Linked DNA regions of Homo sapiens: region 2 is linked to region 1. The links come from fine-mapping of genetic effects on plasma protein levels. A gene starts in region 1. The other region holds a variant in brackets. All regions are shown on one strand. Distances are from middle to middle. Region 1 holds the start of CA6 (carbonic anhydrase 6). Region 2 overlaps CA6 (carbonic anhydrase 6).

Region 1 (8,820 bases):
AGTCAGAAAGGAAATAGAAATCTGTGAGTTTAGCATCAAAATGCCGAAGGCATTTCAGAGTGTGTGTATTTTAGGTAGAGGACAGTCTCTGGGCTGTTGGCTTAGCTCTATCCATTCTTCTTGGACATGTAATTTTAAGAAGTGTGGTCATCTGGTTTCTGCCAAACAGATGAGGAAGCCAGGAGATGAGAACAGACAGACAACCCTAAGAGGCAAGAGCTGGAAGCCCATGTTAGAAATGCTAATAGTGGGCCAGGCGCGGTGGCTCACACCTGTAATCTCAGCACTTTGGGAGGCCAAGGCAGGCGGATCACCTCAGGTCAGGAATTCAAGACCAGCCTGACCAACATGGTGAAACCCCGTCTCTACTAAAAATACAAAAATTAGCCAGGCATGGTGGTGGGCGCCTGTAATCCCAGCTACTTGGGAGGCTGAGGCCGGAGAGTCACTTGAACCCGGGTGGTGGAGGTTGCAGTGAGCCGAGATCACGCCATTGCACTCCAGCCTGGGCAACAAGAGTGAAGCTTCATCTCAAAAAAAAAAAAAAAAAAAAGAAAAGAAAAAAAGAAAGAAATGCTAACAATGAAAAAACAATGAAAAACAAAATCAATACACACACAATGGTACCTCCAGCTGCTCCTGCCGCTCAGCCCTTCCCAAGAACTTCCCAATCTCCCTACAATCCACCAATCCAGGGTTAACTCCTGGCAGAGCAGGGAGCTTTCAGACTTTCCTCCACACCAAGTCTGGCTTCTGTCCTGATTGGTTATGTCCCAGCCTTATGGATACCCCTGAGCATAAACGTGCATTGCTTTAGTAATCAATTAAGCTAGCTAACTTTCCTCTCTCAGTATCTGGTAAAAGAAATCCAAAAACTACAGTTAGGGGTCATTTCTTTCCTTTCTTTCTTTTTTTTTTTGAGACGATGGAGTCTCCCTCTTGAGCCTCCCGAGTAGCTGGGATCACAGGCACATGCCACCATGCCTGGCTACTTTTGTATTTTCAGAAGAGACGGGGTTTCACCATGTTGGCCAAGCTGGGCTCGAACTCCTGACCTCAGGTGATCCATCCCCCTTGGCCTCCCAAAGTGCTGGGATTATAGGTGTGAGCCACTGTGCCTGGCCAGGGGTCGTTTCTTGCAGGGAGAATTATATATATATGTTATATGTTATAGGCCCAGCAGACATCAATATATTACAATGCAGGAGAATAATTGATGTTCATATTAGTGGGACTCAGTCATTAAGAAAAGTTTAATAAAATTCAGCTTTATCTTTTTAAAACTGTACCGTACATTTTAGAGGTTTTAAACATCTTGGTGCTTACATAGGATTGAGCCTGTAACCATCTAGAACTTACTTGTTCAGAGTGACTCATTCTTCAGGATGAGCTCACACTCCTGCATGAAACAGAACAATAGCCTTTCTGTGTTACTTACACCCAAATAAGCATATTCTTGTGTAGGCAGACTCTTTCTTTTTTGTTTGTTTTTTGTTTGTTTTTGTTGTTGTTTTTGAGACAGAGTCTCGTTCTGTTGCCCAGGCTGGAGTGCAGTGGCGTGATCTCAGTTCGCTGCAACCTCTGCCTCCTGGGTTCAAGTGATTCTCATGGCTCGGCCTCCCAAGTAGCTGGAATTACAGGCACGCACCACTATGCCTGGCTAATTTTTGTATTTTTAGTAGAGACGGGGTTTCACCATGTTGCCCAGGCTGGTCTTGAACTCCTGACATCAGGTGATCCACCCACCTCGGCCTCCCCAAGTGCTGGGATTACAGGTGTGAGCCACCGTGCCTGGCCTGCCAGACTCATTCTTTTATGCTGGTCCTGTGCAGCCTGGGCTAACGGTGCCTCCCTAGTCATTTGGTTCATGATCTGTCCCTGCTCACCTGGGCTGATGGTGCCTTCTTGCCCACCTGGGCTGGCCATGCCTCCCTGCCTCCTTCTTTTTCCTTGCCTCAGTGGGCCTTGTCGGGGGGGCAGTGGTAGAAGCAAGGAAGAACAAAGGCTCCTTTCTCCCTTTGACCTGATGTTGTAATAATGATAAACTTGTCAACTCATCTCCGACAGCCAATCCAACCATAGACCCTAGAAAAATAGGAGTTTAGAATTAAAAAAACAACCTTGATCAGCCAAGGATATGGTTGGATGAAGGCAGAAGGAAGCTCATAGCATAGAGAGACACACTAAAAATAAAAGCAACAAAAACAGAGCACACATAGGGCACGCACCTGTTGTCCCAGCTACTTGGAGGGGATGAGGCGGAAGGGGGTGCTGAGGCGGGAGGATCACCTGAGCACTGGGAGGCTGCAGTGAGCCATGATTGCACCACTGCACTCCAGCCTGGGCAACAGAGTGAGACCCTGTCTCAAAAAAGAAACCAAAAACCAAAAACAACAACAACAAAAACCCACTGCCACCACCACCAACAAAAGCAAACCCAAACAAACAATGTGCCTCCCAAATCCAAGAAGAAGACTCATGTTCAAAGGTGACGGAAAATTTCAGGTTTGAAGTAGACAAGGAGTCAGAAAATAGGCAACACTACTGACCACACCTGATTCTGGGTCCAGTATGTCCTTGGCAGTGTGCTGTACAGCGGAGGGAGGGGACCCTCTCTCTAGAAATATGCCCTCGTTGGCAGATGGCCTTGCTTCTCCAAGAGGCCATCATCTGATCTGACCCCCGTATTGCCTTAATTACTCACTTTCACACCAATTCTCAACACCAGCCAGGTCAACAGGTTGCTGGCCAGTCCAGGCTCTTGCCTGAGCGAAAGGCAAAACCAGGGCAAAGCTTCAGATGTGATGGGTGGATACGCTGCACAGCAGTTCTGCAGAGGGGCTGCTGGCATCACAGCTTCACAGACGCAGTATGTGCACTGTATTTTAAGGAGCTGTGTGAGGCAAGGAACGCCCCAGAGCTCTCCTGGGAAGCCCCAAATGCTCACCGCAGGGCAGTGAGACCCGTGGGGCTGGGAGCTGCCAGGAGTGGTGGGCCCTCTGCATTTCACTGTGCTCTCCCGCAAGCACTCCTCTCTCTGACTCTCCAGGGCCCCTCTTTGGGCAGTCTTCCCCTCCCCCTTGGCCCAGGCTTTCTCTGAGCTCCTTCCTGCTCCAGTTCCCCTCGCCTGGGCTCATCCAGTCCTCCCAGGCTTCCGTGACAGCCTGACATTTTAGTCTCTGCCTGCCTGCAGCTCCCTGATTCTTTCTGGGTCTCCCAATTCAGATTCCCAAGAAAAAATTCAGATGACTGAGTTTGTGTTTTCCTGCCAGTTTGATGTCAGGGGTCCTGCCTGGGCTTGTAAAGGGTCTTGGTCTCCTCAGCAGAGGTGGGGCCTTGTGATTTACAAGGTGGCCCTTTCCGCAGGGCTGGGAGTCAGCAGGTGGGCGTCACTGGTTTAGCAAGGACAGAAGAGTAGGTTTCTCATTTTTGCAAAGAAATGGTCCATAAGCTGGAGATTGAAGCATTTTTCCTCCAGTTCCCTCACTAACCAGCTGGGTGGCAATGATAAATCACTTCCTTTTCCTATAAAATGAGGGGTCTGAATAGATGCTAATGCCATTTGCTACACACCAGGCACTGCTCCAACTACTGCAGGCACATTTATTGCCGAATCCCCACAAAGGAGGTGCTATCACTAACTCCTTTTAAAGAAAGGAGGCGGCCAGGTGCGGCGGCTCACGCCTGTAATCCCAGCACTTTGGGAGCACGAGGCGGGAGAATCGCTTGAGTCCAGGAGTTTGAGGCCAGCCTAAGCAACATGGTGAAAACCTGTATCTACAAAAAGTACAAAAATTAGCAGGGCGTAGTGGCATGCGACTGTGGTCCCAGCTACTTGGGAAGCTGAGGCAGGAGGATTGCTTGAGTCCAAGAGAAGTGAGCTGAAATCGTATCATTGCACTCCAGCCTGGTGACAGAGAGAGACCCTGTCTCAAAAAAGAAAGAAAGAGAGAAAGAGAGAAAGAAAAGAAAGAGAGAAAGGAAGAAAGAAAGAGAAAAAAGAAAAGGAAGGAAAGCTGAGGCACAGAGCGCTGAGTTGCCCATGGTCACACAGTTAGCAGGTGGCACAGATCCTGTCTAGTTTCAGAATCCTTGTCCTTGAACATGCTTTGCTCTCTCTCTGAGATTCTTTCAGCTCTTGAGCTTTAGAAATGGAAGTTTCCAGCAAGTTCTTTGCAGCAGCTGATGTTCCCTATTAAATGACAGTGGGGAGTCTTAGAAGTATTCGGGAGGCCTACGTTCACCGCTAACATCCTTGTTGTGAAGGCCTGCTGACGTTTGCCATTCCAGGACCAAGTGGACAATGAGTTAAGCTAGGCCAGGAGGGGGTTCAGCTCCCCATAACAAGGCAGGGGTGGCCCTTTGTGTCCGGCAGCATGGTAGCCCCCCCGCAGGAGCTCCGGCTACCCTTTGTGTTTGACCTTGTGGAAGGGCATGGGAAATGCTGGCCTGTCAGCAGGCATAAACTCAAAAGTTTCTCCTTCAGCTAATTTCAGGGACTGTCTAGCCAAGTGAATACACAGGATTAGGTAATCCATGGATCCTGCGAGGGCAATTGGCTGATTGGCTTAGGTGTGCCCAAGAGCCCTGCAGGTGTCAGAACAAATCCATGTAGAAATGCAGACGCCCACACCAGCTTGAATGGCATAAAGGCACACATTGGAATGTGGCTCATGAGCTGGGACCCAGGATCAACCACTGGTTTAAGGAGAGGACCGTGAAATGTCCAAACATGGAGGCCAGGCCACCTCCCTGGATGCCTGGCTGAGGGCAGCCACATGTCTGCAGCGGTGGCTTGTGTCCATGACTGAGATGGGCAGGGTTTGCAGGCAGTGGTGATCCCATCAGCAGTCCCCAGATCTCTAATGTCAGGAGAAAGAGCATGGGAAGTCCGACGTCCAGGAAAGTCTTTCATCCTGCTTCTCCCTGCCTTGGGCCTTTTCCCATTTCCGCGGTCACCTGTCCACAATGGCTGCACTGTGTGGCTCTTCAGGTGTTCCTAAGACACTGAACAACCAAACCCATGGACTGACCGGATATGAAATTGACGTGGGAGGAGATCAGGCAGGTGCTGGGGCTGCCTGGCGCAATGCACGGAGCCAGAAGTGCTGTTATGGGGAGGGTGTTATTGTTTTAGTGGGTGCAGCAAAGGGTGGTTTAGCCAGCTGGGCAGATCAATTGTAAATTGTTATTTACAGTTTCTGAGCCTTTAAAAGAAGAGCTTCGCCGGAATCAGTCTTCATTACAGATGTGCAGCACCATGAGGGCCCTGGTGCTTCTGCTGTCCCTGTTCCTGCTGGGTGGCCAGGCCCAGCATGTGTCTGACTGGACCTACTCAGGTGAGCCCCTAGCTTCTGCATGCTCCCCCAGTTACCCTCACACCCTTACAACAGGACAAGTGCCCTTCTTCTTCTTCTTTTTTTTTTTTTTAGACAAAGTCTTGCTCTGTTGCCCAGGCTTGAGTACAGTAGTGTGATGTTGGCTCACTGCAACCTCCGCCTCCCGGGTTCAAGTGATTCTGCTGCCTTAGCCTCCCGAGTACCTGGGATTACAGGTGCCTGCCACCATGCCTGGCTAATTTTTGTATTTTTAGTAGAGACAGGGTTTCACCATGTTGTCCAGGCTGGTCTCGAACTCCTGACCTTAGGTGATCTGCCCATCTCCCAAAGTGCTGGGATTACAGGCATGAGCCATTGCGCCCGGCCAAGAGTCCTCCTTTAGGGCATTTCACAGGATGGCCAGGCAGCCCACTTGCCATATGTTGGGGGTCTGCTCATTGTGGCTTCAGATGTTACCTTTTCAGTGTCTCAGAAGGTATGGAGAATAAGCTGAACTTAAACTTCAAATAAGGAAAAGAAGGAAATAGCTTTCCCCTTCACAAACTCCTGATTTACTTACAGGCTTTTTGCTTTAAATTTTTTTCCATCCACAGTGTTGGCTGGTTCAAAAGCACACTCACTGCTTCTATTTGTAAAACCATTTGCTTTGTTGGTCCGTGTAAGTGGAAAACAAAGTTCTTAGAAAAGACTCTCGGTAACCTCACGGAAGGTGCTGTGGGGTTTGCGAGACCTTCTTTCTTGGAAATTTCATGGTAGGCAGTTTACCCAGAACATCTTGACATAAGGACCCAGTTCCCTTTGATCTGTGGGCTGCCAAAATGAGAGGTGTTTTTTTTTTTGTTTTTTTTTTTTTTTTGAGACAGAGTCTTGCTCTGTTGCCCAGGCTGGAGTTCAGTGGTGCCATCTCGGCTTACTGCAACCTCTGCCTCCTGGTTTCAAGCGATTCTCATGTCTTAGCCTCCCAAGTAGCTGGGATTACAGGCACTCATCACCATGCCTGGCTAACTTTTGTATTTTTAGTGGAGATGGGGTTTTACCACGTTGGCCAGGCTGTTCTCAAACTTCTGACCTCAAGTGATCCGCCCACCTTAGCCTCCCAAAGTGCTGGGATTACAGGCGTGAGCCACCGCGCCAGGCCCCAAACCAGACTTTTAAAATGTGAAATGTAAAATCCTGGCATTCAACATGGGTTCTGGTCCACATGTGAGCCAAAGCTAGAAGGCCGTGTCTGTGGACTTTGTGGACACTAAACAGCCCTTTCCAGGGGCAGTGAGGAGAGCTTCTTCCCGCATCCCCCTTCTTTCCATACGGGACCATGGATTGGGGCCCATGAGGAGGCTGGTGGCCGCTGGCTGATGCAGGAAGTGAGACAAACATCTGCTTCCTGCAGAGTCTGCCCCAGTTCAGCTGCTCCGGAAGCATTCCTTCAGGGTGAACGGGATGATCTGTTAAGTCAAGGGCAACGGAATTAGGGACATCCTGGGAGGTTCAGAAAGTCCAGCCAGCTCTGAACAACCGCTCTGTTCCTGAGGACAGTGATCTTACACATGGCAGTGCCTCGGAAGCCTGGGGCATTCTGCTTCACTTGGCCAAGCAGTGCAGGCAGGTGGTTCAGAGGTGAAGGAAGAGAGAATTCAGACAATGAAGTCCTTGTCCTTCCCAGGCTCTGCCCAGCCTCTGAGACAGTGGGCTTCCTGGGAAACTACTAGGGGCTCCAGGAGAACTTGAGAGTAGCTTTTGTAAATGCCTTCCAGGGAAACCTGAGAGATGTTCCAGTATTGACAGTGCCCTGGGCCAAAGCATCTTGCTCTGAGAAGGCGTTGTGCTCCAGGCCAATTGCCTTGATTACAAACCAAAAAGCGGTGAGGGCCCTAGTACAGACACCTTTTTTTTTTTTTTTGAGAGTTTCACTCTCGTTGCCCAGGCTGGAGTGCAGTGGCGCGATCTCGGCTCACCGCAACCTCTGCCTCCTGGGTTCAAGTGATTCTCCTGCCTTAGCCTCTCAAGTAGCTGGGATTAACGGCATGTGCCACCATGCCCGGCTGATTGTTTTTTATTTTTAGTAGAGATGGAGTTTCTCCAGGTTTGTCAGGGTGGGTCTCGAGCTCCCAACCTTAGGTGATCCACCCGCCTCGGCCTCCCAAAGTGTTGGGATTACAGGCATGAGCCACCGTGCCCAGCCACAAACACCTGTCTTAAAACAAGCTGTGTACTCACCACACAGCTACCCCCGAACAGGGAACAGAGGTGGGATTCTCCATGTCACATGGCTGACTCCAAGCTCCACAGCTGTATGGGAGCCAAGTCACCATGATAATCACTCACCTATGTTACTCTGTCCCCTACGATTATCAACCCTCTCTGAAAAGATAAACTTTCTCCTTATGAATTTTAAAAAAGTACTCATTCTAGGTTGTCCTGGAACCTGATGCTTCCTTAGTTTCCCTGAATCCATAAGTGTAGACACCTAGATGGTCTTTACCATACGGGAATCCATAAAAGGGGCTGGAGCAAGAAAATAGTGGTGGGGGGTTCCTGCAGCATGGGGAGGTGGGGGCTGTGTTCCTGTTGGGGGCATGGAAGGACAACTGGGCCCTTGGGAGGAAATGAGGAAGAGGCCCCAGGAGCAGCACAGGAAGAGCAAAGCCAAGGATCCCTCCATGCATTCACCAGCTGGAAATAAGTCAAACGAGAGCAAAAATTTACGTATAAAACACTCTCAGGCCGGGCACGGTGGCTCACGCCTGTAATCCCAGCACTTTGGGAGGCCAAGGTGGGTGGATCACCTGAGGTCAGGAGTTAGAGATCAGCCTGGCCAACATGGTGAAACCCCGTCTCTACTAAAAATACAAAAATTAGCCAGGCGTGGTGGTGCATGCCTGTAATCCCAGCTACTCCGGAGGCTGATGCCGGATAATCTCTTGAATCTGGGAGGCAGAGGTTGCAGTGAGCCAAGATTGCACCACTGCACTCCAACCTGGGTGACACAGCGAGACCCTGTCTCAAAAAAAAAAAAAAAAGACTTCCATTGATTTCAAAACACTGTCTTGCTCCCAGGGCCAGCAGTTGCCACAGGAAAGTTAGAGGTTAGCACCAAAGCCCCCCAAACACCAGAGTCCTTGGAGTTGACCTCGTTGTCTTTTTGGCCTCCTTCTGGGGGACCTGCTTCTGCTTTCTGGAAGGTGCCTCCGTGGGTCCCCGCCCAGCAGGCCCTGGCCTCTGGCCTCTGGCCTGGTGAGGTTCCTCCAGAGTGGGCGCAGCCAGGCAGCCCCTTGAACTGTGTCTTTCCTGTCTTAGAAGGGGCACTGGACGAAGCGCACTGGCCACAGCACTACCCCGCCTGTGGGGGCCAGAGACAGTCGCCTATCAACCTACAGAGGACGAAGGTGCGGTACAACCCCTCCTTGAAGGGGCTCAATATGACAGGCTATGAGACCCAGGCAGGGGAGTTCCCCATGGTCAACAATGGCCACACAGGTAA
Region 2 (8,820 bases), 28 kb after region 1:
GAAAAAAAGACATTATAGATGAGAACCAGCAGAATCAGACCTACAAAGACTTCAGTTAGTGGAATTATCAGACAATTAATATGACATAAGAATGTTTAACATGTATAAAGAAATAAAAGGTTTAAATATGAGAAAAGAGCAAAAAAGTATAAAAATGGACATCCAGACTTGGGACAAAAACTCAAATAGAATTTCTAGAAATGGAAAAATAGTATCAAAAATTAATAATCCAGGCCAGTTGTGGTGTCTCATGCCTGTAATCCCAGCACTTTGGGAGGCCAAAGTGGGTGGATCACCTGAGGTCAGGAGTTTGAGATCAGCCTGGCCAACATGGTGGAACCCCGTCTCTACTAAAAGTACAAAAAATTAGCCAGTCGTGGTGGTGGGGCGCTTGTAATCCCAGCTACCCCAGAGGCTGAGGTGGAAGAATCACTTGAACCTGGGACGTGGAGGTTGCAGTGAGCCAAGATTGCACTACTGCACTCCAGCCTGGGCAACAGAGCAAAACCCTGTCTCAAAAAAAAAAAAAGTTTGCTGGGCACGGTGGCTCAAGCCTGTAATCCCAGCACTTTGGGACGCCAAAGCGGGTGGATCACGAGGTCAGGGGTTCGAGACCAGCCTGGCCAACATGGTGAAACCCTGTCTCTACTAAAGATACAAAAAATTAGCCGGGCATAGTGGTGTGAACCTATAATCCCAGCCACTCAGGAGGCTGAGGCAGGAGAATCGCTTGAACCCAGGAGGCGGATGTTGCAGTGAGCTGAGATCATGCCATTGCACTCCAGCCTGGGCAACAGGGCAAGACTCCATCTCAAAAAAACAAAAACAAAAACCCAATGAATGGGTTTAACGCATGTTAGATACAGTTTGAGAGAGAATTAGTAAATTGGAGACAGCCAATAACATTATCTAGAATGCAGCACAGAGAAAAGGAGATGGAACTATGAAAAGAAGTGAAGAGACATTGTGTACTGGAAA[G/A]GTCTAGTAAATGTCTAATCAAAATCCTAGAAGGAGAAGAGAGGCAGAGTAGGGAAGAGGCATGATTTGACAAAATATTGGCTGACAATTTTCAGGAAGAGATACCAAGTCATATATTCAAGAATGCCAATTAGTTTCTCTCTCTGTCTCTCTCTCTCTCTGGGTGTGTAGATATGTGTGTGTGTGTATACACAACATCCTGCAGTAAACGCATCACATTGAAATCATCAAAGACAAAGAAACTATTTAAAAATTAGCCAGAAAGAAAAGACAGATTATCATGAAAAGAGTATTATTAGACAGAGAGTTGATTTAACAGCCACAGTGAAAGTCAGAAGGGAGTGGAAACATAATTTCAAAGTGCCGAGGGAAAAAAAATAGCCAATATAGAATTGTATGTGCAGCAAAGATGCCTTTCAAGGATATAGACAAAATACAGACATTTTCAGGTCAGGTGAGGTGGTTCATACCTGTAATTCCAGCACTATGGGAGGCTGAGTGGGCGAATGGCCTGAGGAGTTTGAGACCAGCCTGGCCCACATGGTGAAACCCCATCTCTACTAAAAATATAAAAATTATCTGGGTGTGTGGGTGGGTGCCTGTAGTCCCAGCTAGTCAGGAGGCTGAGGCAGGAGAGAATAACTTGAACCCGGGAGGTGGAGGTTGCAGTGAGCCGCAATCGCGTCACTGCACTCCAGCCTGGCGACAGAGCGAGACTCTGGTCTCAAAAAAAAAAAAAAAAAAAAAAGAGAAAAACCTGACATTTTCAGAAAAACAAAAATTGAGTTTGCCACTTGATATATTTCTGCTTCTTCTTTCTCTCCTTTCTACTACTGGACAAATACTCATATAAAAAGCTGAAAAGAGAGCTTGTGTGCAGATACCTGTTGGAAGAATGCACGGATAGATTAGTTCTGGAATAATGCCTGAGACACAGCACCCAGAACCTCCCCTGGACTTGAGATCTTCTTACAGTCACTTCATCAGGGTTATATAAATCCAAACTCTAGCCCAGTTGTTAATTCTTTTTTATTTTTTATTTTTTTTGAGACAGAGTTTCTCTCTGTCTCCCAGGCTGGAGTGCGGTTGCGTGATACTGGCTTACTGCAGCCTCTGCCTCCCAGGTTCAAGCGATTCTCCTGCCTCAGCCTCCTGAGTAGCTGGGATTACAGGTGCACACAACCATGATCAGCTAATTTTTAGTAGAGAAGAGGTTTCACCATGTTGGCCAGGCTGGTCTCCAACTCCTGAGCTCAAGTGATCTGCCCGCCCCAGCCTCCCAAAATGCTGGGATTACAGGCGTGAGCCACTGCGCCGGGCCAACTGTTATTTCTTTTAAATTACCCAGTGACTCTTCCCCTCCATAATGCACTCACGTTGCCCCCAGGTTTGGAAGCTGGAGAATTCCTTACTGGATCACCGCAACAAGACCATCCACAACGATTACCGCAGGACCCAGCCCCTGAACCACAGAGTGGTGGAATCCAACTTCCCGAATCAGGGTGAGTGAGACCGACTCTTGATCATGCTCTGCAGTTTAACTCCTGTTTTGCTCCTTCCTCTAGGTGGACCCATCTCTTCTGGTGATATAAGGGAAGGAGAGTCATTTCAGTAGCAAGAGGCTCAGGTGGGCCAAGCTGCACAGGGCTTGGGCAGAGGGTGATGACTTTTTCCCAGTCCAGGCAGGGATGCCAGTGAGTAGAACACACGAGACAATCAGAAGCGACAGCTACGTGATTTATTACCTACCTAGTCTTGGCTAGAGAGAGCAGGAGAAGCAAGAAGACCACAACATCCGGAAGCTCTCACAAGAGTGTAGGTTCAAGTTAACCTTTTTTTTTTTTTTTTTTGAGACAGAGTCTCACTCTGTCACCCAGGCTGGAGTGCAGTGGTGCAATCTCGTCTCACTACAACCTCTGCTTCCCGGGTTCAAGCAATTCTCCTGCCTCAACCTCCCCAGTAGCTGGGACTACAGGCACCTACCACCACGCCCGGCTAATTTTTTTTTTTTAACTGAAATGGGGCTTTGCCATATTGGCCAGGCTGGTCCCAAACTCCTGACCTCAGGTGATCTGCCCACCTCGGCCTCCCAAAGTGCTGGGATTACAGGCGGGAGCCACCGTGCCTGGCCAAGTTAACCTTATTAACCCCACCCAGATTATTTCCTGCGCATCTTGATCATAGTCTGTGTTATGAACCCACCCCCAACGCCTCCTATACATTCTCTCAAAGTGGAGTTAACTAGACCACATATTGTTCCCTGCATCTGCCTGGGGCGCAGGCCCCAGACCCCAGCGTGCTGGAAGCAGGTGCGGGCAGGCCAGCCTCCGCTGCATCCTCCAGTTCCTTGGATCAGGCTCCAACCGTGTCCTTGGCTCACCTCGTTTCTGTGTTGGCAAGAGTGTAAATATTTCACAGCCTCCTCATCTTTATTTTGTCTGCTTTCTGTAAAGTTGTGGTGAATCCATTGTCTTTACAGCCCATTCTGTTAACCATTCCTGATACCTTTATATTTTCCAATACAGTAGAATCAGTATCCTATCAATATTGTGTACTCAATATTATCCCACTTTTTTTTTCTTTTTTGAGACAAGGTCTCAGTCTGTTGCCCAGGCTGGAGCTCAGTGGCACAATCACGGCTCACTGCAGCCTCAAACATCCAGGCTCAAGTGATCCTCCCACCTCAGCCTCCCCAGTAGCGGAGACTGCAGGCACACACCACCACACCCAGCTAATTTTTTTTGTAGTTTTTGTAGAGATGGACTCTTACTATGTTGCTCAGACTGGTCTCAAACTCCTGGCCACAAGCAATCCTCCCCCCTCAGCCTCCCAAAGTGCTGGGATTATAAGCACGAGCCACCTCGTTCGGCCTTATCCCATCTTTATATGTACCTTTTAAAACTTAAATTTCCTCCGGGTGTGGCGGCTCACGCCTGTAATCCCAGCACTTTGGGAGGCTGAGGCGGGCAGATCACGATGTCAGGAGATCGAGACCATCTTGGCTAACATGGTGAAACCCCGCCTCTACTAAATATACAAAAAATTAGCCAGGCGAGGTGGCGGGCGCCTGTAGTCCCAGCTACTGGGGAGGCTGAGACTGGGGAGGCTGAGTAGCTGGGCATGAACCCGGGAGGCGGAGCTTGCAGTGAGCCGAGATTGCGCCACTGCACTCCAGCCTGGGCGACAGAGAGAGACTCTGTTTCAAAAAACCAAAACAAACAAACAAACAAAAAAATTAAATTTCCACCTCCCCAACCCGAATAAGGCCTATTTGTGATTTTCTCCCCACCTTTCCTTCCTGGTTCACTTACTGAATTAACAGAGGATATAGGTGTTTTCTATATTGTTTCCTGAAATACAATTCACTCCTCCAATACAATACTAACAGAAGAAAAAAACTGACATCAGTTACAGTAATCATTTCCCCATATTATACCATATACAACATTAACAGCAAGAATCCCTTTGTCCGAAAGTGATGTCGTCTTTAACAGGTCCAATTGCAAGCAGGCTGACCAAAGGGAGCTTAGACTCATGGGTCTGTCTCCTAATTCTTTTGGAGTCTCTCACTCTGTCGCCCAGGCTGGAGTGCAGTGGTGCAATCTCATGGGCTCACTGCAACCTCCGCCTCCCAGATTCAAGCAATTCTCCTGCCTCAGCCTCCCAAGTAGCTGGGATTACAGGCACGCGCCCCCACGCCAGGCTAATTTTTGTATTTTTAGTAGAGATGGGATTTCACCATGTTGGTTAGGCTGGTCTTGAACTCCTGACCTCAGGTGATCCGCCTGCCCGGCCTCCCAAATTGCTGGGATTACAGGTGTGAGTCACTGTGCCCGGCCTGTCTCCTAGGTCTAAATGTTGCCATATTTCCCCTGCTTTCCCTAAAACAATTTTACGCTATTCTTGCAATAGTCACTAACAGACTGCGTATCGTTCTATTTGCCACATCTGAAATGCTTTTTCCACTACAGCGTCACTCTAGCATCTCCTCACGAGGGGGTCAGATGTTCTAGGTACCGGCCCCAGACTGAGGTATTCCATGCTGTGATTTGTCTGTAGGTCCACTAAGAATCGCTGTTTAGGATCGATTACTTCAACTCCCAGTTCAGCATCAGAGGGCTTCCTTACCCCCAGGGAACCCGAATTGTGGCCTCCCTTTGCTGATTATAGAACAGACAACTGGGCATCATCTTGGCCCACCTTCCCTCAGGCCTGGATTTTTCTTTCTCTCTCTTTCTTTCTTTCTTTCTTTCTTTCTTTCTTTCTTTCTTTCTTTCTTTCTTTCTTTCTTTCTTTCTTTCTTTCTTTTCCCTCCCTCCCTCTCTCTCTCTCTCTCTCTCTTTCTTCCTCTCTTTCTTTCTTTTTTTGACAGAGTCTTGCTCTGTTGCCCAGACTGGAGTGCAATGGCGCAATCTTGGCTCACTGCAGCCATGACCTCCAGGGCTCAAGCAGTCCTCCTACCTCGACCTCCCAAGTAGCTGGGAGTAGCATGTACCACCACACCCAGCTAATTTTTGTATTTTTTTGTAGAGACGGGCTTTGGCCATGTGGCCCAGGCTGGTCTCGAACTCCTGAGCTCAAGCAATCCACCCACTTCAGCCTCCCAAAGTGCTGGGATTACAGGCATGAGCCATCGCGCCTGGCCAGGCCCAGATTTCTATGTAGCAGTGATTGGCTGTGGTCAACCCAGCTGCGTGACTCATGGTATTTCACTGTTCTGTAGAGAACTGTATCCCAGCGGGGTTGATATGATTAACCCACCTGCAAGGAGTGAATTGAGAAACCAAGGTCAGTTACAAAAACAAGACGATGGCCAAATACGGACCTCTTGCGATTTATTTACTAGAAAACGCCTATATCCCCTCAGGCAAGGGCCACGGGGGGCATCGTGGGAGAAGCCAAAATCCAAGAGTACAGCCCACCTCAACACGCCACCCCTTGGCTCTGGGCAGCTTAGAAGCCTGAGTTCAAACACAGTGAAGATGACTAAAGGCAATGCACCGGGCACGTGGAGAGCATTCTAAGGAATCAAAAGACTTCCCAAAAATACGATGCGGGTATGGTGTCTGGCCGTCCCCCTTCTCTGTTTTTGTGAGGACTGTACAAGGTTTAACCATTTCCGACTAACTCTTCTTTTTACAGAATACACTCTAGGCTCTGAATTCCAGTTTTACCTACATAAGATTGAGGAAATTCTTGACTACTTAAGAAGAGCATTGAACTGAGGAAAGCTAAGAGGAAGATTCAATATTAACTAGCTTGAAGCCTGACCTAGCCAGAAGTGCCTGTCCGCTGCAGCCGCACCCTACCTTGTCTAAGAAACCATGTGTGTCTGGAACACGCTGCTCCCCCTGGGGCAGCTGTTGGGATTCTGATTAAAAGAGGGGAAACGATCATCCTGGACAGGAAGTGAGATGGCTTCAGTTCATGAGACGGGATCTGAGTTAGACATCACCAGTGGAAATTGATTGGAATAGAAACTTAAAGGAAATGGAACCCTAACTATTCTCCCATCAAATCATATATGTTGACCTGTCTGAATTATAAACCAGCCTGACCTTTCCTTTAGCATTAGATGTAATAAAATAACTTTGGAAATTTGTCATTTAAAAATTTCTTTCCTATTCCTTTGTATTACTTCAAATATCCCTTCTTTGTTCTGCCCGCCCCCGACTCCTCCCCCCACTCCTCCCCCTACTCCCCCACAACCGCACATAGGTGAAGGGATAGAGATCAAAGTGGGAGGGATTTCCAAGACTAAGATTAATAAAAAGGAAGGAGGTGTTTTTTGTTGTTGTTGCTTATTTTTTTGAGATGGAGTCTCACTCTGTTGCCAGGCTGGAGTGCAGTGGCACAATCTTGGCTCACTGCAACCTCCACCTCTTGGGTTCAAGCAATTCTCCTGCCTCAGCCTCCCTGAGTAGCTGGGACTACAGTTGCGCACCACCATGCCCAGCTAATTTTTTGTATTTTTAGTAGAGACGGGGTTTCACCATGTTGCTCAGGATGGTCTCGATCTCTTGACCTTATGATCCGCCCGCCTCGGCCTCCCAAAGTGCTGGGATTACAGGCGTGAGCCACCGCGCCTGGCCTTTTCTTTTCCTTTGAGACAGAGCCTCGCTTTGTTGCTCAGGCTGGAATCCAGTGGTATAATTTTACTGCAACCTCTGCCTTCTGGGTTCAAGCAATTATTCTGCCTCAGCCTCCCAAGTAGTTGGGATTACAGGTGTGCACCACCACGCCCAGCTAATTTTTGTATTTTTAGTAGAGATGGGGTTTTGCCATGTTGGCCAGGCTGGTCTCAAACTCCTGATCTCAGGTGATCCTCCTGCCTCGGCCTCCCAAAGTGTTGGGATTACGGGCGTGAGCCACCACCCCTGGCCTAGGAAGAGATTCTTACACTGAGAATTTGTCAGTGGGGAAGTTTGGAGCAGTGGCTGTGAGTCAAAGAAAAAACAGGAGACGAGAAAGAAGAAGGGCTCCCAGGACAGAAGGAAAGAAGAGAGGGGACCTCACTGCAAACCCCCTTGTTGGTCAAATGGTGCCTGGTCCTTGTTACCAGACCCAGATTCAGGCATCCCATTAGTTATGTGGGATGATAACATGACCTCACAGGGCTCATAGGGCTGTGGCTTCATTAAATAACACTGAGAAGTACCCAGAAGAGTGACCCATATTTTTTTTATCATTAAATAACACTGAGAAGTACCCAGAAGAGTGACCCATATTTTTTATTTTTATTTTTATGTTTTTTGAGACAGGATCTTGCTCTGTGGCCTAGGCTGGAGTGCAGTGGTGATCCTAGCTTCATGGCAGCCTCAACCTCCTGGGCTCAAGTGATCTTCCTACCTTTGGTCTCCCAAGGTGCTGGAATTATAGGCATGAGCCACCACACCTGGCTGCTACCAATTTTCTTGGTCACTTATGCATTCCCTTCATCGATGCCCCTTCCTTCCCATGCCTTAGCTTCCTCCTCACTTCTGATTGAGCTCACCCTGGCTCTTCTGAATTCCTTCTGCTCTTGTTACCTCTGTTGTTTTTCCATGTCATTATTTGTCATATCCTAAGCACTTCCACCACACGTGACTGCCCTCAGCCCCGAAGGCCACCTTCAGTGAACTTGCATTATCCCCAGTTTACAGAAAGCAAACCAAGACGTCGACTTGCCCAAGATCTCCTAGGTGGCAGATGAAAAGCCAGGATTTGAACCCAAGTCTTTTGTATCCACATTCTTTTAACCATAGGAAGCCTCCCTTTCATTTTCTCAACAAGCTTTCTTATGCACTTGCTCTGAGCCTGACATAACACTAGGTGCTGGGGGTTCAGGGATGGGTGAGAACAGCTCCCACACTCCTACAGCTCGGGTCTGGTGAGCAGAGTGGACACTAAAATAAGTAATCGCCATATCGCCCCATGGTGGAGGGAGCGCCTGTGTTTAAAATCCAAGTGCTTGGCCTGGGTTTTGAAGGCTGAGAAAGAGTTCACCTGGGAAACCAAGTCAGAGAGGGGCGGGGGTATTGTAACCCGAGAGTGTGGCATGTGCTGATGGGAAGACACCTGGGGAAGTGGAAGCAATTTGGCGTGGTCAGAGGACCAAGTTCAAGGATGCTGGCACGGAAAGCGGGGGTGTGGCCAGGGCAGGTCAGGCCGTCACTGGTATCTTCTGTGCCACTAAAGGGTTTCGGATTTTACCCTGTAGGTGACGGCAGCGACTGCAGGGTTTCCACAGGGGAACGACACGGTGCGATTCATTCTTTCCACCAGATATGTGTGTCTATAATGAATGAGAGACGCAACAGTGGGCGGTACGGCCAAAGAGCTTACTTACATTCCTGTGGGAAG

Evidence for each region. PIP is the chance, under the fine-mapping model, that this variant and not a neighbour inherited with it causes the effect. The UK Biobank Pharma Proteomics Project read protein levels with antibody pairs (Olink). The fine-mapping took linkage between variants from a reference panel, not from the people measured, so its PIPs are less certain.
Region 2: its variant is fine-mapped to the plasma level of the CA6 protein (UK Biobank, PIP 0.93).

What each region holds. Positions count from the first base shown.
Region 1 is chr1:8,940,627-8,949,446 of GRCh38, forward strand. It overlaps CA6 (carbonic anhydrase 6), which reads left to right and starts at 5,242. Exons shown (of 8, transcript NM_001215.4): 1 at 5,242-5,339; 2 at 8,637-8,816. The coding sequence starts at 5,261.
Region 2 is chr1:8,968,502-8,977,321 of GRCh38, forward strand. It overlaps CA6 (carbonic anhydrase 6), which reads left to right. Exons shown (of 8, transcript NM_001215.4): 7 at 2,366-2,480; 8 at 6,121-6,591. The coding sequence ends at 6,203. Among named protein-coding and RNA genes, the nearest start is that of CA6, 27 kb to the left of the region's middle. The variant G/A (reference allele first, on the strand shown) is at 979.